Homo sapiens: one gene and its partners. The protein of the gene in region 1 purifies or fractionates together with the protein of each later gene. This does not show direct contact. Each region holds a gene or a part of one and is shown in the gene's direction. Other genes may lie near its edges.

Region 1 (3,882 bases):
GAGTGCAATGGTGCGATCTTGGCTCGGCACGATCTCGGCTCAGCACGATCTCAGCTTACTGCAACCTCCGCCTTTCGGGTTCAAGCGATTCTCCTGCCTCAGCCTCCCAAGTAGCTGGCATTACAGGCATGTGCCACCACGCCTGGCTAATTTTGTATTTTTTGTAGAGATGGGGTTTCTCCTTGTTGGTCAGGCTGGTCTTGAACTCCCAACATCAGGTGATCCGCCCACTTCACCCACCCAAAGTGCTGGGATTACAGGTGTGAGCCACCACGCCCAGTGGTGTATGGGTTCTTTTATATGAAATGTCTAGAACAGGCAAAGCCATAGAGACAGAAAGTAAATTTGTAGTTGGGTAGTGGGCTAAGAGGTAGAGGGTTTCTTTTTGGGGTAATGAGAATGTTCTGGAATTAAATGATGATTGCACAACTCAATATACTAAAAACCAGTGGATTATATACTAAAAAGCGTGAATTTTTTCTGGCGTTTGACTTACATTGCAATAAAACTGTTATAAAAATAGTAAAATTAGGTCACTCCTAATCTCAGGCACTCCCTGCTTAAAATGTATCAGTGGTTTCCTATTATATTTCATATAAAATTCAGATTCCTTATCATGACCTTCAAGACCCTATGCAACCGACCCCTGCCTTCCTCTGATCTCTGCTTCACCCATGTGCTCCAGCCACACAAATCTTACTATTCATTAGAGATGCCACTTTGGTTTGGATGTTCTCATTCATGTCTTCCTTTCTAAAGTGTTTCTTCTCAGTACATATATATTTACTTTTTCCTTCTCATTCACTAGTATATTCCATAAGGGTAGGGATGCTGTCTCACTTACTATACTCCCAACATTTATGACAGATTCTGGCACATGATATCTACTTAATAAATTCTTTTTGAATTAATTAAAAATACTGTAGAGTTTTAGTTATTTTTAGTTATTGGGGTGAAAGGATCACTTGCAGCCAAGAGTTCAAGACCAGCCTGGGCATCATGGTGAGACCGCATCTTTAAAGAAATAAAAAACAGGCCAGGCGCAGTAGCTCACGCCTGTAGTCCCAACACTTTGGGAGGCTGAGGTGGGCGGATCACAAGGTCAGGAGTTCGAGACCAGCCTGGCCAATATGGTGAAACCCTGTCTCTACTAAAAATACAAAAATTAGCTGGGTGTGGTGGTGGGCGCCTGTAGTCCCAGCTACTTGGGAGGCTGGGGCAGGAGAATCACTTGAACCCGGGAGGCGGAGGTTGTAGTGAGCCGAGATCGTGCCACTGCACTCCAGCCTGGGCAAAAGAGCGAGACTCTGTCTCAATAAATAAATAAATAAATAAATAAATAGAAGGAAATAAAAAACAATTAGCCGGGCATGGAGGCATGCTCCTATAGTCCCAGCTACTTGGGAGGCTGAGGCAGGAGGATCACTTGAGCTCAGGAGTTCGAGGCTGTAGTGAGCTATGATCAGGCCACTGCACTCCAGCGTGGGCAACAGAGTAAGACTTTGTCTCTAAAGAAAAGTCACTAGAAATAGACTTACTGACATACACACGCAAAAGGCTATACAGAATCCCCTAAAGAAGCAAACAGTGACAGTGGAGTGGCAAATGGAGACATTGCATTTGAACTTGACAGATTGTTTTTTTGCAGCCAAGTTATCTGTATAGTCTTCTAATTTCACTGTGGTTTTTTATTGATGTTATGATTTTTTCTTTTTCTTTAGGGGCCTTGGACAAGTTGTTACTGACTATGTTCATGGGGATGCCTTGCAGAAAGCTGCCAAGGCAGGGCTTTTGGCACTTTCAGCTTTAACCTTTGCTGGGCTTTGCTATTTCAACTATCACGATGTGGGCATCTGCAAAGCTGTTGCCATGCTGTGGAAGCTCTGACCTTTTTGACTTCATACTTTGAAGAATTGATGTATGCCTCTTTGCCTCTGCTTTGTCATGCCATTAAGCTCACAATAAGGAAGAAATAACAGATAAGTCCATTGGTGGACAGCCTTCTTCTCTTAATCACAAGATTATTTTCAGAATTTAATCTTTGAGGAAAAGGTTTGAGAGGAATTATATCTAAGTTGTGAGACTGAGTTCTATATTCTGGTGAGTTAATGGGGTTGCCTCCCAGCTTCTTATAAGACTCACAGTATAACTAAACATGATATATCAGCTTTTGCCTTTCAATTTATCAATCTCTTAAAGAGAATCCAACTTTATTACGATTAGTATATGATCAAACTTCCATATTTGCCTTGGGAATAATGGACAAAGGGAAATACTCTTAATTCATGAATAAAAACTTTGCAGAAAATTAGACAGTGTTTAATTTTCGAAAACTTCCCTCTCTAGACAGTAGATACCACCTACTGATGGTTACATATACTAGGGAAATTTTAAAATTAGGAAATGCTGATAGCTCATATTATAAATTTCTAAATCCTAGGAAGAAACGCTTGGAGTGCTTCTGAATATACAGAAGTTCCATTTAAGGGCAAGTTTCCCTGTAGATGTATCAAAATACTACCAACTGTAAATTGAGATTTAATTCCCAAATGTATTCTACTTGTTCTAAAACAATCTGTCCACAAATATAAAACTATAAGTAATAAATTGTTATTTTCGCACAATGGGAATCTCTAATGTGAAAATGTATTCTATGAAAATAATTTTTTTAAATAAAATGTTATATAATAAAAGTGTCTTCTATGCTTTTATATATTAGCTATCAGTAGTTTTATTCATTAGAATTAGGTGTCCATTGCATCCACAGCATGAAAACAAAATTGGGTTTTTTTTTTTTTTTGAGACGGAGTCGCACTCTGTCACCCAGGTTGGAGTGCAGTGGCGTGATCTCGGAGCACTGCAAGCTCCGCCTCCCAGGTTCATGTCATTCTCCTGCCTCAGCCCCCCGAGTAACTGGGATTACAGGCACCCACCACCACGCCCAGCTAATATTTTGTATTTTCAGTGGACATGGGGTTTCACCGTGTTAGCAAGGATGGTCTCGAACTGCTGACCTCGTGATCCACCCATCTTGGCCTCCCAGAGTGCTGGGATTACAGGCATGAGCCACCCCGCCCAGCCAAAATTGAGTGTTTAAATTTTCTTCTGGGGCTTAGCAGTTAGGTAAATCAGACACAAAGTACTGGAAAACAAAAAGGACTTGTAATAGGCAGAAAAATACCAAGTGTATAAGTAATTTGGTATAAACAGAGTATAAGGTTTAGTATTTAGGAATAAGAACTATGTCCAGATTATGGTGTTCTGTGAATACCAGCCTTTGGAATTCATATTATGTTCTATGTGTATTTAGTCTGGTCTAAGAGTTGAGTGTAAGGCATGATGCTGTCTTCTATCAATATAGAGTAACTGGGACTAAGCACATTTTACTCACCAAGGACCTTACTGGGAAGCTGAGGCAAAGGAAGAGTATGTGTTTATGAATGTGTACTAGGGGTTAAAGACATGCTCTCCTTGATGTGCCTGTGGTCTTGTAGAGACTCAAGTGTGCATTAGGGTTTAGGAAGAGGTGATTAATTCTGTTTTGGGGTGGGTAAAAGGTTTCAAAAGAGGGTGATGCCTGAATAGCAGTGGCACACCAACAGATAGTGGTGGTGGGACCAGTCCACCCTGGTGGGAGAGAATATATAAACAATATTCTGACATTGTTTAGAATTGCTGATGCTTGATGATGATAAAAAACAAATGGACTAAAAGTCAATTTTATTGTTTTAAAATTCTCTATAGACGATCCCCTCCCCACCTTGTAGTGTCATTCCTTCCCTTCCCTAGCTCTCAGTATACTGCTGCTGTAGAGTGGAGTGATGAAATGGAGTCTTCCATAAAGTCAAAATGGGGATGGCAGTGACTCTGGATAATATGGGA
Region 2 (4,171 bases), on another chromosome or scaffold:
GAGTGCACCACCGTGCCCAGCTAATTTCTGATTTTTTGTAGAGACGAGGTCTTGCTCTGTTGCCCAGTCTGGTCTGAAACTCCTGGACTAAGATGATCCTCCTGTCTTGGCCTCCCAAAGTGTTGGGATTATAGGAGTGAGCCACTGCACTTGGCTGGAAGTTTTAAAACTATAACAGATCATGGCCTTGCCCTCCTAAAAATAAAGTCAGTAGGGCTGGTTAGGACTTAGACTATATTTTAAGGTTCCTAGATGATTCTTTTGCAGGCAGAGTTAAGAACCATTATATAGGCCGGGCGCGGTGGCTCACACCTGTAATCCCAGCACTTTGGGAGGCCGAGGCGGGCGGATCACGAGGGCAGGAGATCAAGACCATGCTGGCTAACACAGTGAAACCCCGTCTCTGCCAAAAAATACAAAAAATTAGCCAGGTGTGGTGGTGGGTGCCTGTAGTCCCAGCTACTTGGGAGGCTGAGGCAGGAGAATGGCCTGAACCCGGGAGGCAGTGCTTGCAGTGAGCCGAGATCGTGCTGCTGCACTCCAGTCTGGGCGACAGAGCGAGACTCCGTCTAAAAAAAAAAAAGAACCATTATATTATACACCTTATACACCAAGATTGTGGATATGTATTGACTCTTCATATATTCTGGCCCAGGAATTCCATTCCCAAATGTTTACTCAAGAGAAACTTGTAAGTTTGCACCAAGAGACATGTACAGGAGTGTTCTGATGTACTGTTTGTAATAGCAAAAGTCTAGAAACAACCCAAATGTCCACTGATTGTAGATGAATCACTATGTAGATTGTGGATAAATTGTAGTATATTCAGTAGTGAAATATCACATAGTAGTAAAAAAATAGTAATAAACTATGGCTATATGTACATGTATAACCTTAGAAATGTAACAATGTTATTTGTAGAAAGCATTTCCCAGAAGACTAAAATGTTACGATGTAATTATATTCAGAAGGAAAAGGAAAGAATGTGTTGTTTAGGCATGTGTAAATGTGTTAGGGCTGGGCACAGTGGCTCACTCTTATAATCCCAGCACTTTAGGGGGCCGAGGTGAGAGGAACAAGTACTTGAGGCCAGGAGTTTGAGATCAGCCTGAGCAACATATTGAGCCCTCATCTCTACTAAAAGTTAAAAAATTAGCCAGGTATGGAGGTGTACATCTGTAGTCTCAGCTACTCAGGAGGCCAAGGTGGAAGGATTGCTCAAGCCTAGGAGGTCAAGGCTACAGTGAGCTATGATTGCACCACTGCACTCTAACCTGGGTGACAGAGTGAGACCCTGTCTCTAAAAAAAAAAAAAAATGAAAAAATGAAAAAAAAAAGGTATTAGAATAGTGGTTACCTCTTGTAGAGGCTGAGGTAATAAATGGAGAGGAGCACATGGATATATGTAATTAATTGGTAACTTTTATTTTTTCTTGAGCTCCCATTATTCAATGAATTGGTAAATTTTAACTCTGAAAGCTGGGAAATATGTTAATGGGTGCTTATTTTATTAACTTACATTTTTATTAACTATATTTTTGTGTATGTATTAAATATTGTGTATGTATTAAATATTACATGTGTATTTAATATTACATTTGATTGGTGGACACCTTTTAGGGAGACAAGCATTAATATTTTGATATAGGTGCTTCTCTATGACTTATTAGCGTCACCCAATGAATAGCTAAAGCTAGAGTAATTGGTGGAGTTGTAGTGTATTACAGGCACCTCCCTGTAACATAGTTCACAGTTACATCTTCATTCTTATCAGTAAGGTCCTTTTAATTTCTATACACTGTCTCTTGTAAACAAATACTATCATGATAGTAGAGCTAGGTGAGACCTTTCTTAGATCGTTCAGTCCTGGGGTTATAAACTGACTGCCCATGAGTGGAACACCCACAGATGCATTATCTGTGGCCCTTAGTTAAAAAATATATATTTAATGTCATTAATCAAGAGATAGCCTATTCATTTTGCCAGACTTCATCTCTCTCTAATGTTTACATTCTGCCCAATTGTCAGTTTATCTGCTTGACCCTTGTGAGCATCTGAGTTATAAATAGACCCTTGAACTAGTCCAGCCTCCCTTGTTTTACAGATAAAGAAACTAGCAAGAGTCCATTGTATGTGAGAAGAGATTGTGGGCATTTTGGTTTTGTTGCCTGCCTGATCATTTCATTCCAGCACACTATTCCTTAATATAAATGTAAGGATTATTTCTATTATTTGTTGGTATTGCAAAAAGTGTCCATGGCTGTATTTCTTCAAAGTGAAAATGAAATTAATTGAGAAATATTATTTGATATATTAACCTTTTACATACAAGTTTTCAAAGGTACAGAAAAGGCAGAAACTGAACATTTGGATTATCCCTAATAGAGAGAAGTTGGTTAAATGTTTTCTTGCTCCCTTAAATATTGTGAAGGTAAAGATTGAATGTCTTGGCTGGGTGTGCTGATTCACACCTGTAATCCCAACACTTTGGAAGCTAAGGCAGGAGGATCACTTGAGCCTAGGAGTTAGAGACCAGCCTGAGCAACATAGTGAGACCCCAATCTCAAAATATTTTTAAAAAAGAAAACAAAGGTGTGCCTGTCTTGTTTCAATACTATATTTGGGATGGTTATATAAAAACACAGTTAATACTTTGATGTGTCTTTTTCAGCACAATGTTAGAGGTGTTGTATCTATGGCTAATAATGGCCCGAACACCAATGGATCTCAGTTCTTCATCACCTATGGCAAACAGCCACATTTGGACATGAAATACACCGTATTTGGAAAGTGAGTATTCTGGTTATGGTTTTCTTTTAGCATTTCAATGCAAGTGGTGCATATGCTTAGCTGTGACAGTAGCATAACTAATATTGAAAAGAGTGAGGCCGAGCGCAGTGCCTCACACCTGTAATCCCAGCACTTTGGGAGGCCAAGGTGGGCAGATTGTCTGAGGTCAGGAGTTCGAGACCAGCCTGGCCAATGTGGCAGAACCCCTGTCTCTACTAAAAATATTTTAAAAAATTAGTTGGATGTGGTGGCACACACCTGTAGTCCCAGCTACTCAGGAGGCTGAAGCAGGAGAATTGCTTGAACCTGGGAGGCGGAAGTTACAGTGAGCCGTGATCATGCCATTGCACTCCAGCCTGGGCGACAGAGTGAGACTCTGCCTCAAAAAAAAAAAAAAAAAATGAAAAGAAAAGAAAGAAAAGAAGAGTGGTGTGAGAGCTAAACGTACCTGGAGTTTAAGTCTACCACTTAGCAACCCTGTGACCTTGGGAAAGTTATAATCTCCCTGAGCTTTATTTTCCTTATTTTGTAAAAGAGGCCAGTAATTTTTCAATATTGTTATGCAAATTAACATAGTATATCTATTTTCTTTTTCTTTTTCTTTTTTTGAGACGAAAGGCTCTGTCGCCAGGCTGGAGTATGGTGCAGTAGCACAGTCATGGCTCATTGCAGCCTCAACCTCCTGGTCTCAAGTGATCTTCTCACCTCAGCCTCTTGAGTAACTGGAACCACAAATGTGTACCATCATGCGCAGCTACTTTAAAAAAAAAAAAAACAAAAAAAACACTTTTTTTTTAGAGACATGGTCTCACTATGTTGCCCAGGCTGGTCCATTTTCATTAATGATAGCATTTCACAGCAACTAACAGATCTGAAAAATAGTGGCTTAAACAAGATGGACTGGCATGGTGGTTCCATTTTGTTACCAGTGTTCTAGGCGCCTCTGTCATAATATTGGCAGCACAGCTCTTATCAAAACTTCTGTGTATCAGGGAGGAAAGGGGAGGAAAGACAAAAGGTGCTTGCCAGCTGATTCACCTTTTTTAATTAACAGAACTTTCCCAGGCCTGTAATCCCAGTGCTTTGGGAGGCTGAGACAGGAGGATCACTTGAGGCCAGGAGTTCAAGACCAGCCTGTGGAACATAGCAGAACCCATCTCTATAAAAAAAATTTAAAAATTAGCCAAGTGTGGTGACACACACCTGTAATCCCAACTACTCAGGAGGCTGAGGTGGGAGAATCACTTGAGCCCAGGAGTTCCAGGCTGCATGAGCTGAGATCACACTTCTGTACTCCAGCCTGGGCAACAATGATACCCTATCTCTAAAAAAAAAAAGATAGAAAAAAAGAAAAGCCGGGTGCGGTGGCTCACACCTGTAA
Region 3 (4,171 bases), on another chromosome or scaffold:
AGCTGTTAAATTTGCATGGCATTAAAGATGTTCCTATTCTGATCATTGTTAAATAGATCTTTTTTATTAGATATAATTGTTTTTGAGACAGTTTCGCTCTTGTTGCCCAGGCTGGAGTCTAATGGCATGATCTCCGCTCACCGCAACCTACGCCTCCCAGGTTCAAGCGATTCTCCTGCCTCAGCCTCCCAAGTAGGTGGGATTACAGGCATGTGCCACCACCCCTGGCTGATTTTGTATTTTTAGTAGAGACAGGGTTTTTCCATGTTGGTCAGGCTGGTCTGGAACTCCCGACCTCAGGTGATCCGCCTGCCTTGGCCTCCCAAAGTGCTGAGATTACAGGCACTAGCCACCTCACCCAGCCCCAGGAGATTTTTTTGTGTTGTGCCAACAAATAAGCCTAGGCAGGGAAATTCTTTCTGGTGGTTGGAATTGTTAGTACTGAATAGACTAGATGCGAGGTAAAGAACCCCCATGGGGTTTTCTGTCAGCTCAGAAATCATTGTGACCTCAGTCTTTTACTGTGAAATAACATGACCATTAGGAAAGTAGCCTTAAACAACGTATTTTGGGTATGTTGAGAGGGAGGGACAATTATGATCTGTTCCAAAGTGAACATAACAGATGATCCCTGTGTCTGTGAAGCCTTTAAAATTTATAGTGCTCTTCTATTAATTTCAAGTAAGATTTAGAGTTATTGTGACATACTCTTAAAAAACCTGCAGTGTATCAAAAGGCACGTTTTTAAAGCATCTTGAAATGAAATTAATAATGTAATATCTACTTCTTCAGAATAGTAGTTTTTACATTCTGAAGACTGACTGACTGCTCTCAGCCACTTCTGAGTTCTCTATTTTCAAAGAATAATTTGGTATTCCATAAAGGAAATCTGTAAATAAGAGAAGAGAGTGAATATCTTTTAACAGTGTTTTTCCTGATCTTTTCCAAACATCTTCATTGTGGTTCTGTCCTTTATTTTTTGGTTAAATCCAGAGGTTTACTTCTGCCTGTATCTTTCCAAACTATTAATCTGTTCACAATCACTTTCCCATTTAAACCCTTCAGCAGCCCCAGTACCTTCGTAATAAGGTCTCCTTAGCTTGGTATCCAGAACACTTCAATACTGGGCTTTGACCCCTGTTCTCCTTCCCCTACCTCTGTTTAGGTGCTTCACTGAGCTGCACTGAACAGCTCTTGGCCCCTTGAAATCTCTGCAGTCTCCTTGTCTCCCTCTGCTGGAATATTCTTCTCTCACTTCATCTGATCATTGCCTTCAAAACTCAGCTCATTTTCTTATTTCCTTGCCCTTTTCATGTCCCTTGTTTTCCTCCGATTAAATTAATGTTCCAAACTCAAAAGAAAAACAACTCAGCTCAGGCATCACCTTGCCTGGAAGGCTTCCCTAGTCCTCCTGCCTCCTGCAGACTTGTCTGGCACCCTGTGCATTTGGGATTTGGCACACTATGTCTCGTCTGCGGCCTCCACTGGACAATGAGACCGTAAGTGTGTGGCTTGACAGAAAGTTGTTGACTCTGCTGGGGTGCTGGTACAGTGCTGGGCACGGCAGTGTTACAGAGGAAGTGAGCCACTTAGTTTCTGCCCTTAGGAGCTTTTATTCTAGTTGCACTTGACCCTGACAGCTGTGAGACACCTCCCAGTAGTGCGTACCAACTTTTCAAAGTCTGTTTAATTGTACCTTAGTGTCTGATTCCAATTTTATTTCTTGAAGGAGGGGAGTGTCTCTAATGTCTTATTTTGGCACCCAGAGACCAGGTAGGCATCATTTTTATCCCAAATTGTGGAAGGAATGTACATTTGACACAGATCACTTCCCTTTTTTCTCTTGTACACCTTTCACCTTTTTTTTTTTTTTTTGAGTTTGATGTGTTTGGACAGTAAGGGTTTAAGAGATTAAGATTAAATTTCAACTTTGTCTATTGTGCATATAGCCTAAGGAAAACAAAAAGTTAAAGAGGAAAAATACATTGCCTCTAAAAAGAAGACTCATTATTCAACTTTTTTTATTTTTAGTTGTTTTCAGAGACTGAGTCTCACCCTATCACCCAGGCTGGAGAGGTGATCACAGCTCACCGTAGCCTTGAACTCCTGGGTTCAAGGGTTCCTCTTGCCTTAGTCTTCTCACTAGCTGAGACTGCAGGCCCGCACCAGCACACCTGGCTAATTTTACAAAAATTGTTTTTGAGAGACGTGGTCTTGCCATCTTGCCTAGGCTGGTGTGGAACTCCTGGGTTCAAGCAAACCTCCCGCCTTGGCCACCCTAAGTGTTGGGATTACAGGTGTGACCCATTGTGCCCAGCCTAAACTTTTTTTTTTCAATGCTGAGCTGTACACAGAAGAAAGTAAAGGTCTTGGTCAAGCCTAGGAAAGAAGTATGCAAAGAAACTGGTGGCAGGCTGGATGTGGGCATATTTCAGGGCTTTGGAAGGTGAAGAGGAGAGGACTGCTTGAGGCCGAGAGTTCGAGACCAGCCTGGGCGACATAACGGGACCCTGTCTGTACAGATAAACATTTTATAATTAGCCAGGTGTATGTACCCTAGAACTTAAAGTATAATAAAAAAAAATAAAATTCGCCAGGTGTGGTGGTGCGCACCTGTGGTCTCAGGTACTTGAGAGGCTGAGGCAGGGGGATCTCCTGAGTCCAGGTGTTTGAGGCTGCAGTGAGCTAGGGATCACACCACTGTTCTCCAGCCTGGGCTACGAAGCGAGACTCTGTCTCTAAAGAAAAACATACTGGTGGCATTGTCAAGATTTGTCAAGAAATAGCCATTATGCTGGACCCAGTGGTGCGCACCTGTAGTGCCAGCTTTTCAGGAGGCTGAAGTGGGAGAATCTCTTGAGCCTAGGAGTTTGAGTTCAGCTTGGGCAGCATTGCAAGAGCCCAGTCTCAAAAATATTAGGTCAATAAGGTTTATTTTAATTAAACAAGAAAAAGAAATATCTGCTAAAATTTAAAGCTATTCTATTCTTCCTCTCTCTCTTCTAGTGTTCTTGGGGAAGATCCCGACTAAGCCATTTTCCAGTGGCACCTCTTCCATCATGAGTTCCTGAGGCAGTCCGATGGGGCTACTTTATTCCAGAACAATCACAGTGAGACCTTTTCTCCCAATAAATGCCCCTTTTCTCTCCTTAATATATTCTCTTGCTTACAAAACACTGGTGTCTCCTTATCATGGTTTGGTTCTACCCCACTGGGCCCAAGAATTCTTGCCCAGGAGCAACTGAATTTTCTTCTTGCTTGCTTTTTAAAACTTTGGTGGGGTAGAGCCAATTTTAAATCTTCTGATCCATTTTTTCATTGTTTTTCTCGCCCTTCTGCATTTTCTGCAAATTCTGTTGAATCATTGCAGTTACTTAGGTTTGCTTCGTCTCCCCCATTACAAACTACTTACTGGGTTTTTCAACCCTAGTTCCCTCATTTTTATGATTTATGCTCATTTCTTTGTACACTTCGTCTTGCTCCATCTCCCAACTCATGGCCCCTGGCTTTGGATTATTGTTTTGGTCTTTTATTTTTTGTCTTCTTCTACCTCAACACTTATCTTCCTCTCCCAGTCTCCGGTACCCTATCACCAAGGTTGTCATTAACCTTTCATATTATTCCTCATTATCCATGTATTCATTTGCAAATAAGCGTATATTAACAAAATCACAGGTTTATGGAGATATAATTCACATACCTTAAAATTCAGGCTTTTAAAGTGTACCTTTCATGTGGTTTTTGGTATATTCACAAAGTTATGCATTGATCACCACCATCTGATTCCATAACATGTTCAATACCTCAAAAAGAAGTCTGTACTCATTAGTAGTCATTTCACATTCACCACTCCCTCTGGCTCTGGGCAGTCACTGATCTTTGTGTCTCTATGGATTTGCCTAGTCTAGGTATTTTTATGTAAATGGCATCATACAACATGTGACCTTTTGTTTGGCTTTTTTCATTTAGCAAAATGTTATCAAGGTCTGTCCCTGTTGTAGCATGTATTAGCACTTCATTTCTTATATGCTGAATGATATACTTTATTTGTCCATCAGTTGTTCATGCTTTATTTGTCCATCAGTTGATGAACATTTGCGTTTTTGCCACTTTGGGCTATTAAGAATAATGCTACTGTGAACAAGTGTGTACAAGTTCCTCTACAAATTTT
Region 4 (4,171 bases), on another chromosome or scaffold:
AGTCTTGAACTCCTGGGCTTGGCGTCCAAAGGTCGTCCCCGTTCAGCCTCCCAAATAGCTGGGATTACAGGTGCATGCCACCAGGCCTGGCCATTTTTTTTTATTTTTGGTAGAGATGAGGTCTCATTATGTTGCCCAGGCTGGTCTTGAACTCCTGGGCTGAAGTGATCCTCCTGCCTGAGCCTCCCAAAGTGCTGGGATTACAGATGTGAGCCCCTTTGCTGGCCTGGACCTGGTTTTTATAGATGCCTTAAGTGGGTTGTTGCCTTGTGTGCACAGCCCCAGAAATGTCGTGCGCTCTTTTTGAGTGAGGGTTTGGGGAACAAGAAAGAATCCAAGGGCTCCCTCGGGTCTTTTGCACACATCCTTGGCTCGGGGGTCCCTGTGAGTCCAGCACGTCGCCGGACCATTCGCGGCAGTAAACACAACTTGGGATCTGCATCTCCCTAAGGGAACTTCGCAAGGTGCACCCACAGCTTTTACTGTTTCCAGTTTAATATTCAACCTGAATCTGGGGCCAGCCGAGTGGAGGCTGGTGCTGCTCTGCCCAGCTCCTGTTCTGTTTAGAAACATGTTTATTGCCTTAAGAAGGAGCCAGTTCTTTCACCCAAACAGGATGGGCCTGGAGTTCCTCCAGAGGCTAGTGGGCCCATAGCAGGGAAGGAGGGATGTAAGCTGTGGATAACCGACCGACACGTGTAAGATTGTGCAGTGTGACCCAGGCGTGGCTGTGCGCATGTGAGTGGACCTGTCGGCCTGACCTTCAGGACCAGGGAAAGGGGGAGCCCTCACTGCCTTCCCTCCCAGGACGAAGCAAACCAATCAATGGTCTTAAGGGTTTCTTTTCTTCTGAGGCCTAGTCCTGCTGTGGGCAAGGTTTTTCCAGTGGGATACATTAAAATCAACTTCGGTGGCTCACGCTTCTAATCTCAGCACTTTGGGAGGCTGAGGCGGGCGGATCACCTGAGGTCGGGAGTTCGAGACCAGCCTGACCAACATGGACAATCCCTGTCTCTACTAAAAATACAAAATTAGCCGGGCGTGGTGGCACATGCCTGTAATCCCAGCTACTTGGGAGGCTGAGGCAGGGGAATCGCTTGAACCCAGGGAGGCGGAGGTTGCAGTGAGCTGAGATTACGCCACTGCACTCCAGCCTGGACGACAGTGCGGCACTCTGTCTCAAAAAAATAAATAAATAAAAAATGGCTAAAATGGTAAATTTTTTGTTTGTTTGTTTGTTTGTTTGAGACAGAGTCTTGCTCTGTCGCCTGGGCTGGAGTGCAGTGGCACAATCTCGGCTCACTGCAATCTCCGCCTCCCAGGTTCACGTCATTCTCCTGCCTCAGCCTCCCGAGTAGCTGGTACTACAGGCTCCCGCAACCACGCCCGGCTAGTTTTTTTGTATTTTTAGTAGAGACAGGGTTTCACTGTGTTAGCCAGGATGGTCTCGATCTCCTGACCTCGTGATCCACCCGCCTCGGCCTCCCAAAGTGCTGGGATTACAGGCGTGAGCCACCGCGTCCGGCCTAACATGGTAAATTTTATGCTATGTGTATTTTACCACACACACAAAAACACGTGTCGAGGTGTTTTCCCAAGACAGTGTCTCGCAGACGTACGTTTTACACTATGATTTTTACTTTTCAAGAACTGTTTTAAAGCAGTATTTGCCTTATAATAGGTAGGTGAATGTTCTAGCTGCAAGAGAAACCGGAGTGGTCTGGTCACTCAACCAAAACCTGCTGAAGCAGACCCCTGGGGCACACTGGGAACTTCTACCATCCCAGGTGGAAAGGTTAGTCTGATGTGCGTAAGCAAACCTTGCACTTCTGTGCGCAGGACGGTATCCTTGGGCCAGGGCAGCCACCTGTTGTCCAGAATCCCACAGGGCACGTCTTACCCACTCCTTTTATGTTTGCCTGAGCCCAGGGGTTGCTGTTCTTGGAGAAACACCAACCACCCCCACTTGACTTCTGGCCCATTCGGATCCAGAAATGTGCAGTTTTAAAGCTGCAGCACCTTCCATTTAGGTCCCAGCTCTCCCTCTGGAAAATGCCTGCTCCTCACCAGAGATTCCTCCCTGGAGCACCTGCCTGAAGCATAGCTTTCAAGCTGGTGGTTTTAGAAAGTTAAGAGCCGGCTTCAGAATTCCGACAGGGTGGGATAGCATAGGCTGTGACTTTCTTAGCACACACAGCTGGTTAAAGAGAACTGGGAACGGGCTGGGCGTGGTGGCTCACGCCTGTAATCCCAACACTTTGGGAGGCCGAGGTGGGTGGATCACGAGATCAGGAGTTCGAGACCAGCCTGGCCAACATGGTGAAACCCCATCTCTACTAAAAATACAAAAACTGGCTGGGTGTGGTGGCGGGTGCCTGTAGTCCCAGCTACTCAGGAGGCTGAGGCAGGAGAATCACTTGAGCCCGGGAGGCGGAAGTTGCAGTGAGCCGAGATTACGCCACTGCACTCCAGCCCGTGCGACAGTGCAAGACTCTGTCTCAAAAAAAAAAAAAAAGGGAGAACTAGAACGAAGCATCTCTTTGCTCAAAGTGATCTTCTCAACTGGGGGTTCCTTTTCAGAAGGCCCCCAGGGTGCAGGGTGGTGTTTAGGAGCCTGGAGTGGACCATGCTCGAGTGGAAAGGTGTTTTCAGCAGGGTCAGCCTCTTTTTTTGGTAGAGATGGGGTCTCACCATGTTGCCCAGGCTGGTCTTGAACTCCTGGCCTCAACTAGTCCTCCCACCTTGGCCTCCTGAGTAGCTGAGATTATAGATATGAGCCACTGTGCCCAGCCAAGGGCCAAGCTCTTGAAGCCCTTCTGGGAACTCTATCTCTAGCCTCTCATTACTCAGAATCTGTGTGATGTATTCCAGTAACTTCATAAGTTCTGTGAAAAGAAGGTATACTCCAAAGTTTGTAACGGCTTCTCAAAAGTCACTTATCTTAAGTGGAAGCCCTTCTAATACTTACACAAAGATTAAGGCAAATAATGTGGCTGCGCAACGTGACTCTCACTCGTAATTCCAGCATGGTGGGAAGATCACTTGAGGCCTGCGGTTCAAGGCCAACCTGGGTGACAGAACAAGACCCCATCACACACACACACACACACACACACACACACAAAATAAATAATAATAATAATAATAAACAAAAAAACAGGCCAGGAGCACTGGCTCACACTTGTAATCCCAGCACTTTGGGAGGCTGTGGTGGGTGGATTGCTTGAGATCAGGAGTTTAAGACCAGTCTGGGTAACATGGCAAAATCTCGTCTCTACTAAAAAGAGAAAAAATTAGCTGGGCGTGGTGGCGCCTAACTGTAGTCTCAGCTATAGCTGAGGTGGGAGGATCACCTGAGCCCAGGAGGCAGAAGTTGCAGTGTGCCGAGATGGTGCCATTGCACTCTAGCCTGGATGTCAGCACAAGACCTTGTCTCAAACAAAACAAAACAAGGCCGGGCACAGTGGCTCATGCCTGTAATCCCAACATTTTGGGAGGCCAAGACAGGAGGATTGCTTGAGCCCAGGAGTTCAAGACCAGCCTGGAGAGCATAGCGAGACCCTGTCTCTACAAAAAAATAAAAAATTAGGCCAGGGCGGTGGCTCTCGTCTGTAATCCCACACTTTGGGAGGCCAAGGCAGGCACATCACAAGGTCAGGAGTTTGAGACCAGCCTGACCAACATGGTGAAACCCTGTCTCTAGTAAAAATACAAAAAATTAGCCAGGCATGGTGGTGCATGCCTTTAGTCCCAGCTACTCAGAAGGCTGAGTCTGGAGAATCGCTTGAACCAGGGGCGAGGAGGTTGCCGTGAGTGGAGATCGTGACACTGTACTCCAGCCTGGGCGACAGGGTGAGACTCCATCTCAAAAAAAAAAATTAACTGGGCATGGTGGTGGACACCTGTCGTCCCAGCTACTCAGGAGGCTGAGGCAGGAAGATGGTTCAAGCCATTCAAGGCTGCAGAGAGCAGGGTCACGCCACTGCACCGCACTCCAACCTGGGCAACAGAGCGAGACCCTGTCTCAAAAGAAAAGAAAACTACACCACATTTGAAAAAATACGTTCTTTAAAATGTGAACCTTGAAACACAGATGCTAAAAGTGTTTTTTTAATCCTGCAGGGTGTGAGATGGCAGACAGGTTTGCAGGAAACCCTCAGAAAGGGGGCTG
Region 5 (4,171 bases), on another chromosome or scaffold:
GGGTCAGTTTCCTGATGCCCAATATACTGAACATCAGAGGAGAATTCAGAAAATCTCATATTTAATTCTCATATGTTTTTCACTTGTAGTGATGAAAGCTTTGGCTAAAGTAGCTTTCAATTGAATTAACTGATTAATATTCCTGTTTGAAGAGGTAGAGCCTTTTTTGAAAATTAGTGAGGCAGCCAGCCAAAATGATCTCTCTCCTGATTATATCTGGCTTGGAATCTGGTAATGATCCCAGATCTCCTTGACCTCCCAGAGATTTGTATAAAAAAAAATTTTTCCTGATTACAAGAACATATTACCAAGAATGAAAATATTATACAAATGTATACTTAGAAAAGTTGCCCATAATCCCGCCAGTCAGAAATAACCAGTATTCTATGTATATCCAGAGACTGTATCATTTTATGTTTTTTGTTTAAGGACTCAACCCATCAGAAAAATACCTAATTCAAATACAACTATTGCTATAGCCATTATTTACTAAACATTTACATAATTATTTAACCCTCATAATAATCTGAGAAACAGGAGTATCTTCATTTAAGAGCTTAAGAAACTGAAGTGGCCGAGGTGGGTGGGAGGCCAAGGCGAGTGGATCACCTGAGGTCAGGAGTTTGAGACCAGCCTGGCTAATGTAGTGAAACCTCGTCTCTACTAAAAATACAAAAAAATTAGCCGGGCGTGGTGGCACACACCCGTAGTCCCAGCTACTCGGGAGGCTGAGGCAGGAGAATTGCTTGAACCTGGGAGGCGGAGGTTGCAGTCAGCTGAGATCGTGCCACCGCACTCCAGTCTGGGCGACAGAGCGAGACTCCGTCTCAAAGAAAAAAAAAGAAAAAAGAAAAAATTGGTGTGGGGGTATGTAGTAGTAGAATGATTTTGAGAACATTTGACTTATTTAGAGGCAGTCTTCTCTTTTTGAATTGATTAAACTAATTGACATAATTCTGTATTATTCATAGGAAAACAAAAGCTGAAGACACTGTTATTCACATCCTAGTATTTCCAAGAGTTTTGACTCTCGTAGGTCATTTGAGAGTAGGTGGTGTTATCCTAGGATAACACCATATCAGGGTCTGGTTTTCTGTTGGTTAATATTGGTGTGGGTGGCCATCCCTGGGACTCAGCTGTGAGCCTGTTGTCCTATTTGATGCATAGATCAGGGATGAGTTTGCCCAGATATCTAAGGCATATATTTGGCTATTGAAGTTTCAGAGCTTTGTGCTGGCACTGAAATTCAAAAGATAGTTTTGAATTTCCTATCAAAACTACCAAAAGAGGGGTTCCTGCAGTCTTCTATAATAGCTTATCATCTATCCAGAGTGTCAAAGACTCTGAACCCTCTTGAGTCATATCTTCCTCCCAAATGTTCATCAAACTGTTTGAGTTCAGGTTTACCTCAGTGTCTTCAGTAATTATTTTCATGGTGCTCCTAAGTCAAGGTAAATACCTAACACTTTTGTTTTATTAGTTTGTTAGATCCAAACAGCTTATTTATTTCTTAGCCATTGAGTAGACATTTTTTAAAAAAAATCATCCACATAGGCTGGGCACAGTGGCTGACAACTATAATCCCAGTGCTTTGGGAGGCCAAGGCAGAAGGATCGCTTGAGCCCAGGAGTTAGAGACCAGCCTGAGCAACATAGCAAGACCCCGTCTCTATGAAAAACAAAAGCAAAAACAAAATCATCCACATAAATGGAAAGAAAAAAATATTTTTATTTCATTCTTAAATAATCATACTTTTTTGTTTGTTTGTTTTTGAAACAAGATCTCACTCTGTTACCTGGGCTGGAGTGCAGTAGCACAATCACAGCTCACTTTGTGCCTGGCTAATATTTTTTATTTTTGTTTTTATTTTTTGTCTTATTTTTAGTAGAGACAGGGTCTCATTATGTTGCCCAGGCTGGTCTTGAATTCCTGGGCCCGAGTAATCCTCCCACCTCAGCCTCCTAAATTGCTAGGATTACAGGCATGAGCCACCATACCCAGCCAATCATAATTACTTACTAATAGGATGTATATGCTGTTGGATATTATACAACTCCTCCAACCTTAGAAATCAGATTGGATACTGCCACCCTCATTTCTTGTTCCACAGTGATTTTCACACAGTACTTCATTTTTGCTGAAAACCCAGCTTTGCAAAGATGTGATCATTGAAAGAAATCTAACATCTAATGTTGAAACTGAACTACCTTGAGCTAGTAGTGGTTCACATGATGACCAACAGATGTTAAGTATCACTGTGTTTCATTTGAATATGTAAAATATCCTGTAGGACCTGTGAGTTTGCTTTGGTACCCCAGGGCAGCTTGGTGTAGTTTGGAAACCACAGTTCTAGCAATGATCCCAAACTATCAAATCAGGGTCTCTGGGAGTTGTGATGTGGGTACTCTTTTTTGCTTCCCCAAAATATTTTTTGGTGATTATGGGAAACAACTGGCCTCTTCTTTTTTTCTTTTTTTTTTTTTAATTCCCATTTTACAGATGATGTCTTATTTCTTTGTGTGTGTGTGTGTGTGTGTGTGTGTGTGTGTGTGTGTGTGTGTGTTTTGTCATTTGAGATGGAGCCTCACGCCTCACTCTGTTGCCCAGGCTGGAGTGCAGTGGTGCGATCTCAGCTTCCTGCAACCTCCACCTCCCAGGTTCAAGAGTTTCTCCTGCCTCAGCCTCCTGAGTAGCTGGGACTACAGGTGTGCGCCACCACAACTGGCTCATTTTTGTATTTTTAGTAGAGATGGGGTTTCACCATGTTGCCCAGGCTGGTCTTGAACTCCTCACCACAAATAATCTGCCCACCTTGGCCTCCCAAAGTGTTGGGATTACAGGCATGAGCCACCGTGCCAGCCAAGATAACATCTTATTTCTAATTTGAGTTTCATATTTGTTATACTTGATTTCTCAGTCATTGGTGGTCGATAGCCACTGAGCTCCAACAGATAATGCAGCCCTGTCAGACATTAAAATATTCATACTTTTTCTTTCACATAGGGAAATAATCTTCCAAGTATATACACATAGCAGTTACATTATATCATTATGGTTTTGATTTGCATTTGTCTAATGGCTAATGATGTTAAGCACCTGTTCATGCACTGATTGGCCATTTATTTATCGTCCTTGGAAAGATGTCTATTCAGATCCATTTGTCATTTTATTGATTGAGTTGTAAGAGTTTTTTATGTATTCTGGATAAAAGTCCTCCATGATTTGCAAATATTTTCTCCCATTCCTTTGAGTTGTCTTTTCACTTTCTTGATGGTATTATTTGCAGCACAAAAGTTAGTAATTTTGATGAAATCCAATTCATCTGTTTTTTCTTTTGTCATTTATGATTTTGGTGTCATCTGTGAAACCACTGCCTAATCCAAGATCATGAAGATTTATTTCTATGCTTTCTACTAAGAGTTTTATAGTTTTAGTTCTAGCATTTAGGTCTCTAATTCATTTTAATTTAAATTTTTGTGTAATAGAGATTTGAATGATTTAAAATTTTTCCTCTCTTCAGAGGTAGCAACACTAGAAGATAAAGATAAAAAAAGGGCCAGGCGCAGTGGCTCATGCTGGTAATCCCAGCGCTTTGGGAGGCTGAGGTGGGCGAATCACTTGAGGCCAGGAGTTTGAGACCAGCCTGGCCAACATGGCAAAACCCTGTCTCTACTAAAAATGCAAAAATTAGCGAGGCATGGTGGCATGCATCTATAAGGCCAGCTACCTGGGAGGCTGAGGCACAAGAATGGCTTGAACCCAGGAGGCGGAGGTTGCAGTGAGCTGAGATCACGCTTACTGCACTCTAGCCTGGGCAACAGAGCGAGACTCTGTCTCAAAAAAAAAAAAAAAAAAAAGAGAACCTAATTTTTTTTCTGACTCTTCTCTGGACTGAGTACACTGTTTTTACCTTTTCTTAGTTAGATGATGAACTAGATGATATAGCAAGGCTTGATGTCTAAACTGGCAAGTGAAGTTTTTATAGAGACGGATGTTGAAAGGAGGAATAACATACTAAAACATATGGCACATTTAGTTTATGATGAGATCCCAAGTAGTCTGTCTCCCATCATAAACTTGAACATGAGTTTAAATCTTCTCCTTTTCAAGGCCGGGTGCAGTGGCTCACACCTGTAATCTCAGCACTTTGGGAGGCAAAGGTGGGCAGATC
Region 6 (4,171 bases), on another chromosome or scaffold:
AGTGAGCCATGATTCCATGCCCTACACTCCAGCCTGGGCAACAGAGGGAGACGCTGTCTCAAAAAAAAAAAAGAAAAGAAAATATAAGACATTGCCCCCTAGGAACTATTAGAACTAATGAACAAATTCAGCAAGGTTGGAGGACACAAAACTGGTATACAGAAATCAAATGTAGTTTAGTTTTTTATTATGCATAATTTGTCCATGTTTATTTCAACCTATGTCTGTCAGTCTTCATTTTATATTGTACCATGTTTTAATTATAGTTCTATTTCCTTCTAATCCGACTCTGAAACCCTACTTTGTAGCTATGTATACACACACAAAAAATAGCTATATTCTTTCATTTTCACAACAGCATAATTCTTTTTCTGAAAATACTGGCGTGTAGCAGATATTAGCAGATAAATGTATTTTTCTAGGCTAGGCATGGTGGCTCACACTTGTAATACTAGCACTTTCTTTGTGAGGCCAAGGCAGGAGGATTGCTTGAGGCCAGGAGTTTTGAGACCAGCCTGGGCAACAATAGCAAGACTTAGTCTCTACAGAAAAAATGTGTGTGTGTGTGTGTATACATATATATTTATATATGTATTTATATTTATATATTCATATTTATATAAATATTTATATTTATATATTCATATTTATATAAATATTTATATTTATATATTCATATTTATATAAATATTTATATTTATATATGTAAAACCCTGCTTACCTAGAAAAAAGCCTGTAAGTACTGTTAAAAAAACAAAAATTGGATTTCTATACACTAGCAATGAACAATCCTAAAATGAAATTTAAAAACTATTTTCCATATAACAGCATCAAAAAAGAAATTCTTAGGAACAAATTATATGGGCAATAAGACAAAACCCCATCTCTACAAAAAAAGTTAGCTGGGCTTGATGACCTTCCTGTGCCTATAGTCCCAGCTACTTGGAGGCTGAGGTGGGAGAATCACTTGAGCCTGGGAGGTCAAACCTGCAGTGAGCTGTGATCACAACACTGCACTCCATCCAGCCTGGGCGACAGAGTGAGATCCTGTCTCAAAAATCAAATAAGTAAAAGACTTATATGCTGAAAAACTGTAAAACATTGTTGAAAGAAATTTAAGAAGACATAAATAAATGGAAAGACATGCCCTGTTTGTGGGTTGGAAGACTTAATGTTGTTAAGGAGGCAGTGGTCTCCAAATTGATTTCCAGATTCATTGCAATCCCCATCAAAATCCCACCTGCCTTTTCTGCAGAAGTTGACAAGTTGATTCTAAAAATCTTATAGAAATGCAAGGGACCCAGAATATCAAACAATTTTGGTATCTATGTAAAATCTGAGAAAATTTATGTTGTACTCTTTAATGAGCCCTACCTATTAGGAAATTTAGCATGAAACAGCTTAAAGAGAGGACTTTGACTTTTTAATATTTTTCTCTGTCCCAGTATGATCTGCAGGATTACTTTTTACCTTTGATTTGAATTTATTTATTTATTTATCTATTTATTTATTTATTTTTTTGAGACAGTCTCGCTCTGTCTCCCAGGCTGGAGTGCAGTGGTGCGGTCTCGGCTCACTGCAACCTCCGCCTCTGGGGTTCAAGCAATTTTCCTGCCTCAGCCTCCCAAGTAATTGGGACTACAGGCACGTGCAACCACACCCAGCTAATTTTTTGTATTTTTAGTAGAGACGGTTTCACCACGTTAGCCAGGATGGTCTCAATCTCCTGACCTCATGATCCACCCGCCAAGGCCTCCCAAAGTGCCTCCCAAAGTGCTGGGATTACAGGCGTGAGCCACCCACCTGGCCAATTTGAAATTTTTATAGGCTGCAAATATTAGCCTTTGTAATGTAAAAAAAACAAAGATGTTGTTGTCATTTAAAATATGCTAGGACAAGAACAGGCAGATCATTAGAATAAAAATGTAGCAACAAAACAGACTCAATTTTATCTAAGTTCCCAGTATTAAATATGGGAGAAAGGTATTACAAATAAGAAGCAAAAGAGGATTTAGTCAGTGATTTGGGACAACTGATACAGTTTTTGCAGTTTTAGGGGAGTAACTTAAAATTTTTTTTAAGTAGAAAAAAATGTAAAGTATTTATCAGACCTCAGGAAGGGCAGTGGTCTGTTTAGGCTTAAAAGTGATAGATAATGTTATAAAAGAAAGAATAGCCACCTTTATTAATGTAAACATTTAACTCATGTATGTTTAAAATTCTGTTACCAAAATTAGAAGTCAAATAGCACATTACTATTGGCAGTGAGGGAGGAAGCAGAAATGGCAACAGATATAATATATAAGAGCCTCAGATCATGAAAAAGAATTTCCAAGACCCTGGTAAACAGAGGCAAAGAATGTGGACAGACTGAGTCTCTAGAATGAGTCCTCTGGAACAGAGCTTTGTGCGGGCAGGTGGTATTCGTCTCTTTTATTCTCTGCTACATCCCCAGCATCTAGAACAGAACCTGGCAGAGTAAATGTTCAATAAATAATTGGGAAATAAAGAAAAATTAGTAAATTTATGACAAACATTCAACCTATGTAGTATTCAAAAGTCTCGATTTAAAACACTGAAAACAATAACACTTCTCCAGTATCAGAATAGCAAAGGTTTTTAAAGCTTCCAATTCCCAGTGTTAGCAGAGGTCCAGCAGAAAGGACGTCTACATAGTGCTGATACAAATACAGATAATGGGCCAGACGCAGTCGCTCACACCTGTAATCCCAGCATTTGGGAAGGCTGAGGCAGGTGGATCACTTGAGGTCAGGAGTTTGAGACCAGCCTGGCCAACATGGGAAAACCTATCTCTACTAAAAATACAAAAATTTGCCGGGTGTGGTGGCATGCACCTGTAATCCCAGCTACTCGGGAGGCTGAGGCAGGAGAATCGCTTGAACCCGGAAGGTAGAGGTTGCAGTGAGCCGAGATCGCACCATTGCCTCACACCCATAATCCCAACACTTTGAGAATCCAAGGCAGGAGGATCACTTGAGTCCAGGAGTTAGAGACCAGCCTGGGCAACATGGCGAAATCCCACCTCTACAAAAAAATACAAAAATTAAGCTGGATGTGGTGGCACATACCTGTAGTCCCAGCTACTGGGGGGCTGAGGCAGGAGGATCTCTTGAGGCTGGGATGCGGAGGTTACAGATCTGAGATCGTGCCACTGCACTCCAGCCTGGGTAACAGAGCAAGACCCCGTCTCAAGAAAAAAAAGAAAAAAAATGAAATACAGATAGTACTAAAGGAAATGACGTATTTTTAAGTATATTTTTAATCTCATGCATAGAAAATTAGTGAGTGGAATGGGGGCAGGGTGGCAACCAGAAAATAGATTTGTGGAGCACTTACTGTATGCCAGGTACTATGAAAAATTACATATTTTTATGTAATTTTCACAGTAACCCTGTGGTGTAAATATTAACTCTACAGATAAACTGAGGTTCAGAGAGTAATTTCCGTAGAATCACAGTTTCTGCATGATGATTATTATAGTTAAACTATGATTTATATGTCAGATGCTGCTGTAAAGATCTCGTGTGTATTAACTCACCTCCAGCAATCCTGTGGGATGCAGGTGCTGCTCTCTGCACTCAGTGGATTAAATGCCTAGGCAGAAATTAAATCATTTGCCTGCAAGCTGGTAAGTGGCTCAGCCATGGTGCAGACCAGTCTCTTGGCTGCCAGGCCGGCACTCCAGGTCCCACGCCCAGGGATGCTCCGCTTAGTACCATGTCACTGCCCTTGTATGTTCTAGGAGGCTCACAGTGATTTGACTGGGGGACTGTGAGTGATTGGGTGTCTTTTATTCTCTGTACTATGTCTTCTCTTATGGTTATGTATTATTAATTACTATTTAAAACTATTGTCTACATCCTAAAAATCAAACTAAAATTTGAAATAAATTATTTGGAAAAACTTTGCAGGGAGCTTCAGAAGTAAAAAACAAAAACTCGGCCACTGTATGGAAGTTGTGTCATACTTGTCTACTACTACTTTAGCTTTCCATTTCCTAGAAATGTGTTTGCACTGTGATCATCAAAATAGAACTGTGCAGTACTTAAAATGTAAGAATCTGCAAAAACAAAACTACAGAACAAATTCCGAAGGTGACCTGAGAAGACCAAATGGATAAGCTAATACATCCAGGTGTCTCCGATTATAT
Region 7 (4,171 bases), on another chromosome or scaffold:
GCCCTCTGGGGACAGAGTAATCCAGCAATTTCTGTCTAACTCCCAAATCTTGTCAGTTTGGGCAGATGACTCCTAATCCGTTAGCTACATGAAAGTGATATTCTCCTTCAAGTCAGTTTACTTGTGAGGAAAAGAATTCAAGCTTACAGATGATCTTGGCTTGATGGGTGCTAGACTGGGAAGCTTGGAGACCTTATGATAAACCTTTTGTCTAATTGGATTCTTTGTTTCTTTTGAGACAGAGTCTCCCGCTATTGCCCAGGCAACAGTGGTGCAATCTCAGCTCACAGTAGCCTCCACCTCCCAGGTTCAAGCGATTCTCCTTTCTCAGCCTCCCAAGTAGCTGAGATTATAGGCGCCCACCACCATGCCTGACTAATTTTTATATTTTTAGTAGAGACAGGGTTTCACCGTGTTGGCCAGGCTGGTCTTGAACTCCTGACCTCAATTGATCCACCCACCTCAGCCTCCCAAAGTGCTGGGATTACAGGCGTGAGCTGCTGCGCCCGGCTTCTAATTGGGTTCTGATCCCCTCCTCCAGTCCCCACCCTGGAAAGTAGCTACACTCATCTCATTTGCTGATGATGCGAGAGTGTGATTGGGGTTGGGAAGGTGGTGAGCAGTACAATAGATGTTGTTTGATCCTCTCTGGCCTGACAACACATTTTGTGAGCTACTTGGTGTTCTAATTCTTCCCCCAACTCTCAGATCAAAAGTACAGCCTGTACCATTGATGTACCACTCCCCGTGCAGATAAGATAGTAAACTTAGAAGAAGTCAAGTAGAGACAACCCGTTTCTTTTACACATAGTGTGTTTCTGAAAATGTATTTTTTCTGGAGGTCCAAAATGCAAGTCCATTGATAGTCCTGTGGATTTTTAAGTAAGCTGACCTAATTGCTTACATGTAAACTGAGACCCTCTTGAGAGTAAAAAGGGGCAGGTGTTAACAATGATGCCCAGGCTAGGGGAGTAATCAGGTTGTCCAGGGAGCACCTAAGATACAGGGTACCCTCAGTTATTATATGAGGGAGAGTCCCTTTCCTCAGAGAACTAAAATTATAAGTTAGAAAACAATTACACCTCTACATTTTAGGCATGATAATTGAAAACATTTGGCCGGGCATGGTGGCTCACGCCTGTAATCCTAACACTCTGGAAGGCCAAGGCAAGCGGATCATTTGAGGTCAGGGGTTTGAGACCAGCCTGGCCAACATGGTGAAACCCCTTCTCTACTAAAAATACAAAAATTAGGCCGGTTGCAGTGGCTCACGCCTGTAATCCCAGCACTTTGGGAGGCTGAGGTGGGCAGATCATGAGGTCTGGAGATGGAGACCATCCTGGCCAACATGGTGAAACCCCATCTCTACTAAAAATACAAAAATTAGCTGGGCGTGGTGGCACATGCGTGTAATCCCAGCTACTCAGGAGGCTGAGACAGGAGAATTGCTTGAATTCAGGGGACGGAGGTTGCAGTGAGCCAAGATTGTGCCACCACATTCCAGCCTGGGCAACAGTGAGACTCCATCTCAAAAAAAAAAACAAAAAACATTTTCCAGTATATATATATGTGTATATGTATATGTGTATATATATATATATATATATATATGTGTATATATATATATATTTTTTTTTTTTTTCTTTTTTTTGAGACAGAGTCTTGCTCTGCTCCTTAGGCTGGAGTGCAGTGGCGCGATCACGGTTCATTGGAGCCTCAATCCTACTTCAGCCTCCCGAGCAGCTAGGACTACAGGTGTGCACCACTGCTCCCGGCTGAGTTTTCAATTATAGAGATAGGGTTTCACCATGTTGCCCAGACTGGTCTTGAATTCCTGGGCTCAAGCAATCCTCTGCCCTTGACCACCCAAAGTGCTGGGATTATAGGCGTGAGCCACCGCACCTGGCCTGTTTTTCAGTATTTTATACATGTTCTTTCATTTTGTTTTTTCTTCGCAACTGTACATCCAGTCAACCGAGCCAAGGCCAACAAGCATTCCTTGAGGTGAGAGTTGCGGGCCTGATGTGCCTACTGAGTTCTCTCTGTTCTCAGTTTTATTCAATTTATGAGGCCCATCTTTTGCCCCACAAGTATTTGCAGTAATTTGTCCATTTTCCATGAAAATTTTAAAAATAAAAAGGGCAAAATGCAGCAAAACATCCTCGTAGCTGCCCAGACTTTGCTAGACAAAGCCAGTGAGTGGTTTTGGTCAGCAGGCGGGCCCAGGCCGCAGTTGAGCACCTGTCAGCCGGTGTCGGGCAGGTCAGGTTTGGAGGGAAGGCCTGCGCGGCTGTCCACAGGTGGTTTGGTCAAGGGCAGCCTCAGAAGGTGGCACAGGAAAGGGTGTGCGGGGTGCAGGCCTGACCAGCGATGTTTGCAGATGGACTGCCTCTGGGGGTCAACTTGGGGAAGAACAAGACCTCAGTGGACGCCGCGGAGGACTACGCAGAAGGGGTGCGCGTACTGGGCCCCCTGGCCGACTACCTGGTGGTGAATGTGTCCAGCCCCAACACTGCCGGGCTGCGGAGCCTTCAGGGAAAGGCCGAGCTGCGCCGCCTGCTGACCAAGGTGGGCAGCTGCACCCCTCTCCAGGCCCTGTCCCACCAGCCTGTCCCACCTGCTCCCCTTCATTCTCCAGGGCGAACCTTCAGCATCACCCTCAGAAGCTGTCCTTAGCACCTAGACCAGTAGGACCCCTGGCTATACCTTCCCAGAGTCCCCTCTGATCCCCTCTCATGACACTGATTATATGCGACGGTGACAAATTATCTGTCCCTGCTGCTATAAATCACGGGGTCTGTAAGAGCAGACACCACGTCTCTCTCATTTGTCACTCTGACCCTAGCGCCCAGAGCTCTGAGTGAACTGAAGGACTTCATCACCCAGTACATGTGGTAATATTTCCTGGTTATCTTTTAGGAATAAAAGTCTAAAAAACGTTGGACACCGTGGCTCATGCCTGTAATACCAGCACTATGGGAGGCCAAGGCAGGTGGATCACTTATAACCCAGGAATTTGAGACCAGCCTGGGCAAAAGAGCAAGACCCTGTCTCTACAAAAATTTAAAAATTAGCCAGGCACAGTGGCTCAAGCCTATAGCCCCAGCTACTTGGAGGCCGAGGCAGGCAGATCACTTGAGCTCAGGAGCTGACCAGCCTGGGCAACTTGGCAAAACCCCATCTTACAAGAAATACAGAAATTAGCTGGGCATGGTGGTGCACACCTGTAGTCCCTGATACTCTGGAGGCTGAAGTGGAAGGATCGCCTGAGCCCAGGGAGGTGCAGGCTACAGTGAGCCGTGATCATGCTACTACACTCCAGTGTGGGTGACAGAGTGCGACCTTGTCTCAAAAAAAAAAAAAAAAAAAGAAAAGAAAAGTCTAAAACACCCTTGAGCTATTAGCCAATGTCCACGGGATCCCTTGGCCTAAAAGAATGGAATCGGATCCATCTCGACTGTACTCCTCACGTCTGAGGGCTGGCTTTCCTGAAAAGAAATTGTTTCTGCTTTAGTTTGATCGCTATTGTGGAAACCCACTGACCTGCAGCGTAGGTCACAGCTGCACTGCAGGGCTGTGGTCTGCGGGGTCCCCAGCTCTGGCCGTGTGTCGCCCTAGGTGCTGCAGGAGAGGGATGGCTTGCGGAGAGTGCACAGGCCGGCAGTCCTGGTGAAGATCGCTCCTGACCTCACCAGCCAGGATAAGGAGGACATTGCCAGTGTGGTCAAAGAGGTTTGAGTCGGGGCCTGGGCCCAGGGTGTGCCTCCCATGGTCTGCAGAGGCCGTTTGGCCAGCTGGGCTAGCCCAGAATGGCGTTCTTTGTGATTTCCTCTCCTTGGTATTCAAGGCTGGTTTGGTGTGTGTCATGGTGTAACTCACCCTGTGGTCAAAAGCGAATGTTGGAATAAGTGCTTGAAGGAGTTTTTCTAATGCCTCTTCCTCTCTTTTGTCAACTGCATCCAGCAAGTTTAAGGCTTGAGCTTGGCTCCTTGGCCAGTCTTGACTGGGACTGAAAATTCTTTCTCTCACTCCTCTCTCCAGCCTGTCTGGACAGCGGGTCTCTGTGGCATAGGAGAGTAGTGGAAACAGACTGAGCCCGGCCATCGTGGGTTCAAATCCTGGTTCCACCACTTACTACCTGGGGGCCTCAGACAAGACACTGTAATTGGGT

What was found.
Region 2: the proteins of SDHD (region 1) and PPIL3 purify together in Homo sapiens (affinity purification with mass spectrometry; one large-scale study listed by BioGRID and IntAct). This does not show direct contact.
Region 3: the proteins of SDHD (region 1) and SPECC1L purify together in Homo sapiens (affinity purification with mass spectrometry; one large-scale study listed by BioGRID and IntAct). This does not show direct contact.
Region 4: the proteins of SDHD (region 1) and TBC1D24 purify together in Homo sapiens (affinity purification with mass spectrometry; one large-scale study listed by BioGRID and IntAct). This does not show direct contact.
Region 5: the proteins of SDHD (region 1) and SDHC purify together in Homo sapiens (affinity purification with mass spectrometry; one large-scale study listed by BioGRID and IntAct). This does not show direct contact.
Region 6: the proteins of SDHD (region 1) and SDHB purify together in Homo sapiens (affinity purification with mass spectrometry; one large-scale study listed by BioGRID and IntAct). This does not show direct contact.
Region 7: the proteins of SDHD (region 1) and DHODH purify together in Homo sapiens (affinity purification with mass spectrometry; one large-scale study listed by BioGRID and IntAct). This does not show direct contact.

Annotation. Positions count from the first base shown.
Region 1 is NC_000011.10:112,093,084-112,096,965, forward strand, and holds the end of SDHD (succinate dehydrogenase [ubiquinone] cytochrome b small subunit, mitochondrial isoform a precursor), read left to right. Parts: coding exon of another isoform or gene 1-114; exon of another isoform or gene 115-126; intron 127-1,721; coding exon 1,722-1,887; 3' UTR 1,888-2,711; downstream 2,712-3,882. UniProt on the Homo sapiens protein: Membrane-anchoring subunit of succinate dehydrogenase (SDH) that is involved in complex II of the mitochondrial electron transport chain and is responsible for transferring electrons from succinate to ubiquinone (coenzyme Q).
Region 2 is NC_000002.12:200,875,538-200,879,708, reverse strand, and holds part of PPIL3 (peptidyl-prolyl cis-trans isomerase-like 3), read left to right. Parts: intron 1-2,671; coding exon 2,672-2,790; intron 2,791-4,171. UniProt on the Homo sapiens protein: PPIases accelerate the folding of proteins. It catalyzes the cis-trans isomerization of proline imidic peptide bonds in oligopeptides. May be involved in pre-mRNA splicing.
Region 3 is NC_000022.11:24,273,694-24,277,864, forward strand, and holds part of SPECC1L (cytospin-A), read left to right. Parts: intron 1-3,006; 5' UTR 3,007-3,110; intron 3,111-4,171. UniProt on the Homo sapiens protein: Involved in cytokinesis and spindle organization. May play a role in actin cytoskeleton organization and microtubule stabilization and hence required for proper cell adhesion and migration.
Region 4 is NC_000016.10:2,491,912-2,496,082, forward strand, and holds part of TBC1D24 (TBC1 domain family member 24), read left to right. Parts: intron 1-4,122; 5' UTR 4,123-4,171. UniProt on the Homo sapiens protein: May act as a GTPase-activating protein for Rab family protein(s). Involved in neuronal projections development, probably through a negative modulation of ARF6 function. Involved in the regulation of synaptic vesicle trafficking.
Region 5 is NC_000001.11:161,352,148-161,356,318, forward strand, and holds part of SDHC (succinate dehydrogenase cytochrome b560 subunit, mitochondrial isoform 1 precursor), read left to right. Parts: intron 1-4,171. UniProt on the Homo sapiens protein: Membrane-anchoring subunit of succinate dehydrogenase (SDH) that is involved in complex II of the mitochondrial electron transport chain and is responsible for transferring electrons from succinate to ubiquinone (coenzyme Q).
Region 6 is NC_000001.11:17,033,208-17,037,378, reverse strand, and holds part of SDHB (succinate dehydrogenase [ubiquinone] iron-sulfur subunit, mitochondrial isoform 1 precursor), read left to right. Parts: intron 1-4,171. UniProt on the Homo sapiens protein: Iron-sulfur protein (IP) subunit of the succinate dehydrogenase complex (mitochondrial respiratory chain complex II), responsible for transferring electrons from succinate to ubiquinone (coenzyme Q).
Region 7 is NC_000016.10:72,018,744-72,022,914, forward strand, and holds part of DHODH (dihydroorotate dehydrogenase (quinone), mitochondrial), read left to right. Parts: intron 1-2,380; coding exon 2,381-2,568; intron 2,569-3,618; coding exon 3,619-3,732; intron 3,733-4,171. UniProt on the Homo sapiens protein: Catalyzes the conversion of dihydroorotate to orotate with quinone as electron acceptor. Required for UMP biosynthesis via de novo pathway.